Linked DNA regions of Homo sapiens. The protein of the gene in region 1 purifies or fractionates together with the protein of each later gene. This does not show direct contact. Each region holds a gene or a part of one and is shown on either strand. Other genes may lie near its edges. The genes, in order: DGKD and SLC6A4.

Region 1 (3,812 bases):
TGCCTGTGCCTGGGTACAGAGTCCTGCCCCATCCTCACAGAAAGACTGCCCTCAGCCCATCGCTGCTGTCAGAAATAAGCCATGGGGGCACCCCCAGCCCTTCACCACTCGGCCTCAGAACCATGATCGAGGGCCCCAGCTGGAAATCCTCCCACACCCCACATCAGAGCCATGGGCTCCGTCCCCACTGCGGCTTTGACAGCTGCAGACACGGGCAGAGTCCAGCCTGGGTCTGCTCTATCTCATCCCACCTCAGAGGGGACAGGCAAGGCTGTGGTTCAAGCAGGATACACATTTTGAAAGAGTTATCTTGGCCGGGTGCAGTGGCTCACACCTGTAATCCCAACACTTTGGGAGGCCAAGGTGGGTGGATCATTTGAGGTCAGGAGTTCGAGACCAGCCTGGCCAACATGGTGAAGTACAAAAATTAGCTGGGAATGGTGGTGGGCACTTGTAGTCCCAGCTACTCGGAAGGCTGAGGCGGGAGAATCACTTGAACCAGGGAGGTGGAGGTTGCAGCAAGCCGAGATTGCACCACTGCACTCCAGCCTGGGCAACAGAGCAAGACTCTGTCTCAAAAAAAAAAAAAAAAATTAAAAAGAGTTATCTTGAGAATTTAACTGTCAAGCATAGCACAAGGAAAGGGCTCTGGCCCAGGAAGTGGGGCCACGAGCTGTCCAGGACAGGACATGAGGCAGCCACATGGCCCTGGAAAGCGCCCACCCTCCCAGGCTCCATGCACTGCCCCAGAATTTAGCACACTCCGGGCTGGGGACTCGGCCAGACACCCCAGGACCATGGCCACTACCTGGGCGATCCGATGATGCTGTAGCCTGATGACTCGAGAGACGGCCATCTGCATGCTGCCGAACACGGCGACCACCTCCAGAATCTTGTCATCGAATGATGGAGCTGCGAAAGTCTGCAAGGGACACGTTAGAGCTGACCACCACTCCACACATCCCCGAGCACAGGCCGCCCCTACCCTCACTCCCTCCCTCTGGGGGTCAGCCCCTCCTAGCTGGCGAGAAGTTACCAGGTAACTGCACTCCTGACGGGCTTCATGTTGCAGGCCCTGAAACCAGCTGCCTGGGACCAAATCCCAGCTCTCATCTCGGCAAAGTTACTGAATCTCTCTCTCCCCCATTTCCTCATGCGTAAAATGGGGAAACTAACGGCACGCTCCTCCAGGGCCATCAGTAGGGCCAAGTGAGTTAACGCTGCAGAGTGCCAGGACTGGGGCCAGCACACACCACGTGTGCAGGAAGCGCTGAATACTTCTATTCGCTATTACGTACAAAGGAAGGTTTAAACCAGGTTTAAACCTATCAACACCTTCCCACAGTTCTTAACACAAATTCCAAACTTCTTCCCCAGCTCACACAGCCCAGTGTGACCCAGGCCCTGCAGCCCTCTCCTGTCTCTCCACGCCCCTGCTGCCCACTGCAGTCGGGGCACCTCTCTCCCATCCTCCATGTGCCTGCCCTGTCTTGACTCTGAGCCTTCATCTGTGCAATTCTCTCTGCCTGGAACAGCCTCCCCCTCTCCTCTGCCCACCTAACTTAGCCAACTCCAACTCATCCTTCAGGTCTTGGCCTCCCAGACACCTTCCCTGACCCTCCTTCCACGTCACACCCGCTGACCACATCTGCTGACCACAGACCCTCACTGACCACCTTCACTGACACAACTGCTCTGCTCAGCCCTCTAGACGATGAGCTGGGTGGGGGACCCTGTCTATCTTGTTCTCCACGGCAACCCCACTGCTGGCACAACAGAAGAGCTGGATCCACCCCAGCCACAGCAGAACACCCCCCTGCTCTCAGACAGCTCTTCCCCACTGAGCTCAGGCCCACCCGCTCACACCCCATACATACATCATCTTCCTTGGTACCCCCCCAGAAGTTGGTTCCTCCGGCATAGCTGGGAATGTTAAGGACAGCAATTCCCTGAAGACTGGGGAGTGGGATGGGTCGCCCGTCACACTGAGCAGCAGAGACACAGAACAAAAGAAAAGAGAAAGGTATGAGTCAGCCCCTCCTTCTCTACCAGCTTCCCACCGCCAGGGGCTCAGGAGCACAGCCGTGGCCAGGGCATCCCCAGGCAAGTCCCTGTGCATGGAGGAAATGGTCAACAGGAGAAGCAATAGGCCTGGCAGTCTGCTGATGGATGGAGGCCAGCCTGCAGGTGACAAGGACCCTCCCACTCACCTCCAGCAAGACCTTTTGCTCCAGGTTCTTGTAGGTTCTGTGCAGCAACTCTTTGGTTCCAAGAACTCCATACCACATCATGTTCTTGGTTCGGCTCCTAGAAACAGAAGCAAAGACTTGCCATAGGTCTGGGCTTTCTTCGTATAGTTAACCAGAGTCATTTCTGTGAAAGCTGGGAACAGCATCTGACCCACAAATCAGCTACATTTAGCAATTATTTACAGCAGTAACATCTGAAGGACACATTTTTGTTTTTGCAGATATGCATAAAAAGATACGTTTACCAATAGGAAATTTTGCTCAATAGTAACATTTTGCCAAGAAAGTAATCATACCCTGAAAGGTAAATACATAAAGTTAAAACATTATAGAACCCTATAAAAAAACTTCTACACATCCTGATTTTTTCTGGCTAAAAAATTATGCTTACCATAGAAAAACTGGAAAATATAGAAAAGCACCAAGGAGAAGACACTCCTCATAATCCTCCATGCATAATCCAGCACCTGTAGGCACCCTCCACACGTGCTAATGACAAATGCCAAGTGCTGCTATGTATTTCCTCAGTCTTCTTTGCATATTAATTTCCAGTTGCAGTAACTTGTTTACAGTTTCACGACCTACTTGGTCCACTTTACCCTGCGCCGGCAATGCTTCCTTCTGTGGCCACACGCTCTCTGCAGATGTGGCCATCCTCAGCCGGGCACTGCTCTACCACAGCTTATCGAACCAATCCCCTTGATTACACTCCTCCGCCCCATGCCTGAGCTCTGGAAATGACACGCTAGGAGTCCCTTCGTACCTACGTCAACCAACATTTCCAATGACTTCTGCAGAAATTTCCAATGACATTTGTACAAGTGGAATTTTTCTCAGGAGAACTTTTCAAAGCTCTCAATACAAACTCAAGAGAGGTTTGACCAGGGTTCCAAAGCTCTAGAAATGTATTATGCATGCCCCTGTTCCTCAACTACTTATTTTACCCTGCTAAAGTATGTGTATTTTAATACTTTTCCCAGTGATTTTTGGACTAACAGGGATTTTTAAATGATCTGACGTTACCATCCTGTGCTGTACAGGGATATGTCCCTGGGGCCCCTGAGCCATTTTCTCCTGCATGGAAGAGCCTCAGAGTCAAAAGTTCTTTCAGTTCTGATGCTTTTGTTTTCCTAGAAATTTTCAACTACATGTAACCTGAGCAATGACTAAAGCTGGACCCTCAGGTGTCAGCATGGCTCCCCGCAAGGTGGCAGTGACGCCATGAGGAGGGCGAGGCCACAGGGGGCCACGTGGCTTGGTTCATTCAAGCCCATCCTGACTCAGCGGACGAAGACTCCAGCAAGGGTCTCCCAGCTTCTGGGTCAAGGGCTGTTCTCTGCACAAACACCGTCAACCCCCACACTCATTTCTCCCTCTCTGTAGTTCTAATCATGTCAAAGCTGAATGGCCTCTCTGATTATTACTGTGGGGTGGGGAGGGAGACATTTCTCCCTCACTTCTTGTGTTTCACAGACAAGAGAGAATTCTACATCAGCCCAGGAAGAAAAGCTTGAGAAGAGGGACCCTTCTCATTTTTCTCCATCCTCTCTTCAGGCCAGGACT
Region 2 (3,812 bases), on another chromosome or scaffold:
GGGAGTGAAATTGTCTTTCATCTGCCTCAGGGGCATTCCTCCTCCCCTACACCATCATGGCCATTTTTGGGGGAATCCCGCTCTTTTACATGGAGCTCGCACTGGGACAGTACCACCGAAATGGATGCATTTCAATATGGAGGAAAATCTGCCCGATTTTCAAAGGTAACTGAAGGGCTCGGTGGGGTGGGTAAGTGGAGCCTCTCAGGAAGGGATTTCCATCAGTGGGTGGGAGCTGGGGACCTTCTTCTGGAATCAGTCAGGCCTTAGGCATCCCTGGGAGACTGCTTGAGTAATTAAGGTTTTGACTGCGTAAGTGGTGTGAAATTGTCAAAGAGAAACAGAATAAACGGCAATGAGAAGTAAACTAATGTAAACATTTTAAAGCATTAACAGGACATGTACACATTTTCTAAAACATGTTACCTTGCAAATACATATGAGTGACTAACGGCAGGGCCACTTTTCCCACGGTGGCCTGGAGTCCTTGGAATGGAATGGAGGGCAGCACCCACGTGTACCCCTCTGCTGGGCTGCGGGGCTCTCCAGTGCCCCGTTTCAGCCTTTTGCCGTTGGGCCACCCTTAAACTCGGCCTCTGTCTCTCCATCTCACCCACTGCCCAGGGATTGGTTATGCCATCTGCATCATTGCCTTTTACATTGCTTCCTACTACAACACCATCATGGCCTGGGCGCTATACTACCTCATCTCCTCCTTCACGGACCAGCTGCCCTGGACCAGCTGCAAGAACTCCTGGAACACTGGCAACTGCACCAATTACTTCTCCGAGGACAACATCACCTGGACCCTCCATTCCACGTCCCCTGCTGAAGAATTTTACACGTAAGTGCACGTAAGTGAGGGGTTGGCCTGTTAGGGGCAGGCCACACCCCTGGGGTTTGGCTTCTTAAAAAGAAGGCCAGGGCCAAGGGCTCCTCACCCCTTTCTGAGAGATGAAGCTATCAGGGGTGGGAGTAGCAGAATTTGGAGCTGGGAAACTCTACCTCAAGTGCTCCACGGCCTGGCCCTGCTGTGCCTCCTTGCACTTTCTCATGCGCCAAGTCAGTTTGCTCCAATGCGCCCAAGCCCGTCCCTCCCTTCACATTCCAAAATTACTCCCCTTCTTCCGGGGTCCTCCTCTCAGCCAAATGTCATGGAGGCGAAGCATCCTAGTACTTTGATAGTTCAAAACTATTCAAATGGTTTAATGTGTCAACTTCGTAAGTGGGATCTACCCTTTGGAAGAAGATGCTTGAGGAAGGTAGTTTTCTTTAATGCTGGAATTTCAGGCAATGGCAGCCCAAAGAGAGAGCTACTTTGGGGTAGGGAAGGGAGCCAACTCCCCACACTTACACATCCCTCATGTTCCCAAAAGCCAGTCACATTGGTCAAAGGAGTTCAGGTCCCATCCAGCAAAGGAGAATCCAGGAAGTCTGCCTTTAGGTTGAACACTCTTCCCAGGGTGTTGGCCAAATGTGCTTTGTGGTCCTTCAGGACAGGCAGGGCCAATCCCAGCTCTTCCTGGGCCTCAGTGACCACTTGGTCCTAGCAGCACCGTGTCCATTTGTCCCGGGCACCCTCAAAGGAGCAGCACAGATGTGTGCCCAGGTCACTCTACAGAGCCTCTCAGGGGCCTTTCTTTCTCCTTCACCCCAGGCGCCACGTCCTGCAGATCCACCGGTCTAAGGGGCTCCAGGACCTGGGGGGCATCAGCTGGCAGCTGGCCCTCTGCATCATGCTGATCTTCACTGTTATCTACTTCAGCATCTGGAAAGGCGTCAAGACCTCTGGCAAGGTGAGGAAGGCTCTGGCTGCTGACCCAGGCCTGCCCAGGGGCCCACAGGCTCTCAAACTCAAAACCCAGTAGCCTGGACAGACAGCACTGTTTCCTTCCACACCAAACACATTCCATGATGCACCCTCTCTCTCTTCACCGCATTTGTTAGAAAATTCTAGAAGTGGGTTGGGCATGGTGGCTCACGTCTCTAATCCCAGCACTTTGGGAGGCTGAGGTGGGTGGATCATTTGAGGCCAGGAGTTCAAGACCAGCCTGGCCAACACATCGAAACCTCATCTCTACTTAAACAAACAAACAAACAAACAAACAAACAAACAAAAAAAAACAATAGCCAGGTGTGGTGGCAGGTGCCTGTAATCCCAGCTACTCGGGAGGCTGAGGCAAGAGAATCACTTGAACCTGGGAGGTGGAGATTTCTGTGAGCCAAGATCATGCCATTACACTCCTGGGCAGCAGAGTGAAATTCTGTCTCACTAAAAAAAAAAAGGAAAAGAAAAAAGAATATTTTCTAGAAATGGGCCAATGCCAAGAACCATTACATGATTTTTTTTTTTCAAGATTCCTTCAACCCACTGGTAGTACCACAATTAATAATCGTGGCAATGACTTACTGGAAACCCATCATGGACCATGTTCAGTGCTTTTTATACACTGGCCAGTGCTATTGTTTCCTGCTAGATACTCCCTCAACCTTACAGATGCATAGTGGGCTCAGAGGTAGTTCTCCTGGCCAACCTGAATCCGATCCCTGTGTGACTCCAAGGGTTGTGATCTTTCTGCCACACCACCTCGCCCTCCTTTCTCAAGGTCTTCAAGAATAAAAGACACTGACATCCATTCACCCACCTCCCTCCCCTCCCCTCCCCTCCCCCGCTCCCTTCTCCTTCTCCCCTCCCCTCCCCTCCCCTCCCTGGAACAGCATGGTGATAACCCTTCTTCCTTACAGGTGGTGTGGGTGACAGCCACCTTCCCTTATATCATCCTTTCTGTCCTGCTGGTGAGGGGTGCCACCCTCCCTGGAGCCTGGAGGGGTGTTCTCTTCTACTTGAAACCCAATTGGCAGAAACTCCTGGAGACAGGGGTAAGATGATGAGGGAAATATGTGTACCTGTCTGTCATTTTACTAAACGAAGCTGGTCCTCCTCCAAATAGGACAGTAGGGACAACTGAAATGTGGCTTCAGTGTGCAAGTCTGCAATGATACTTTAACCAAGAAATACAAGCATTAAAGTACAGTTGAGGCCACTGGATGGGTTTATGCCTGAATCATAGGAAGAGAAATCACATTTGTTGGCACTTGGTTTATGGCTATGCCTGGAATGAGCCTTAAAAGCTGTTTTTCTGCCTCTGCACTTAGCCACATGGAGGCAGGAGTGGCGACCCTGTTGGTGCCAGGGTAAGCCTGTGTCTCCCCCTCACCCCATGCCCTTACCCCTGCTGTGTTCCAGGTGTGGATAGATGCAGCCGCTCAGATCTTCTTCTCTCTTGGTCCGGGCTTTGGGGTCCTGCTGGCTTTTGCTAGCTACAACAAGTTCAACAACAACTGCTACCAGTGAGTATCTGGGGTCCCCAAGCAAAGCTTGAAAGTGGCGTGAGTGAAAGTCAGCTAGTGTGGAGGAAGGTGATTGGACCGACGGCCTCGAATCTGGCCAGGCTTAGGCCTTGATACCACTGCCCCTCAGGGGTGCTGCAGGCCCCTGACCAGCTCACCCATGGCCAGAGCACTCATCCAGGCCGTGGCTTCACCTGGGCCACTCAGGCTGAGAGGGGCCCCATGCCCTTCGGTTTTGTCAGCGCTCCTGTATATAAAAATAATAAGAGGCTGGACATGGTGGCTCACGCCTGTAATCCCAGCACTTTGGGAGGCCAAGGCAGGTGGATCACCTGAGGTCAGGAGTTCCAGGCTAACCTGGCCAACATGGCGAAACCCTGTCTGTACTAAAAATACAAAGATTAGCCAGGCATGGTGTTGCACACCTGTAAGCACAGCCACTTGGGAGGCTGAGGCACGAG

What was found.
Region 2: the proteins of DGKD (region 1) and SLC6A4 purify together in Homo sapiens (affinity purification with western blotting, with the first as the bait; one study listed by BioGRID). This does not show direct contact.

What each region holds. Positions count from the first base shown.
Region 1 is NC_000002.12:233,455,394-233,459,205, reverse strand, and holds part of DGKD (diacylglycerol kinase delta), read right to left. Parts: intron 2,308-3,812; coding exon 2,211-2,307; intron 1,986-2,210; coding exon 1,878-1,985; intron 923-1,877; coding exon 809-922; intron 1-808.
Region 2 is NC_000017.11:30,215,150-30,218,961, reverse strand, and holds part of SLC6A4 (sodium-dependent serotonin transporter), read left to right. Parts: intron 1-30; coding exon 31-165; intron 166-624; coding exon 625-844; intron 845-1,657; coding exon 1,658-1,796; intron 1,797-2,745; coding exon 2,746-2,880; intron 2,881-3,247; coding exon 3,248-3,351; intron 3,352-3,812.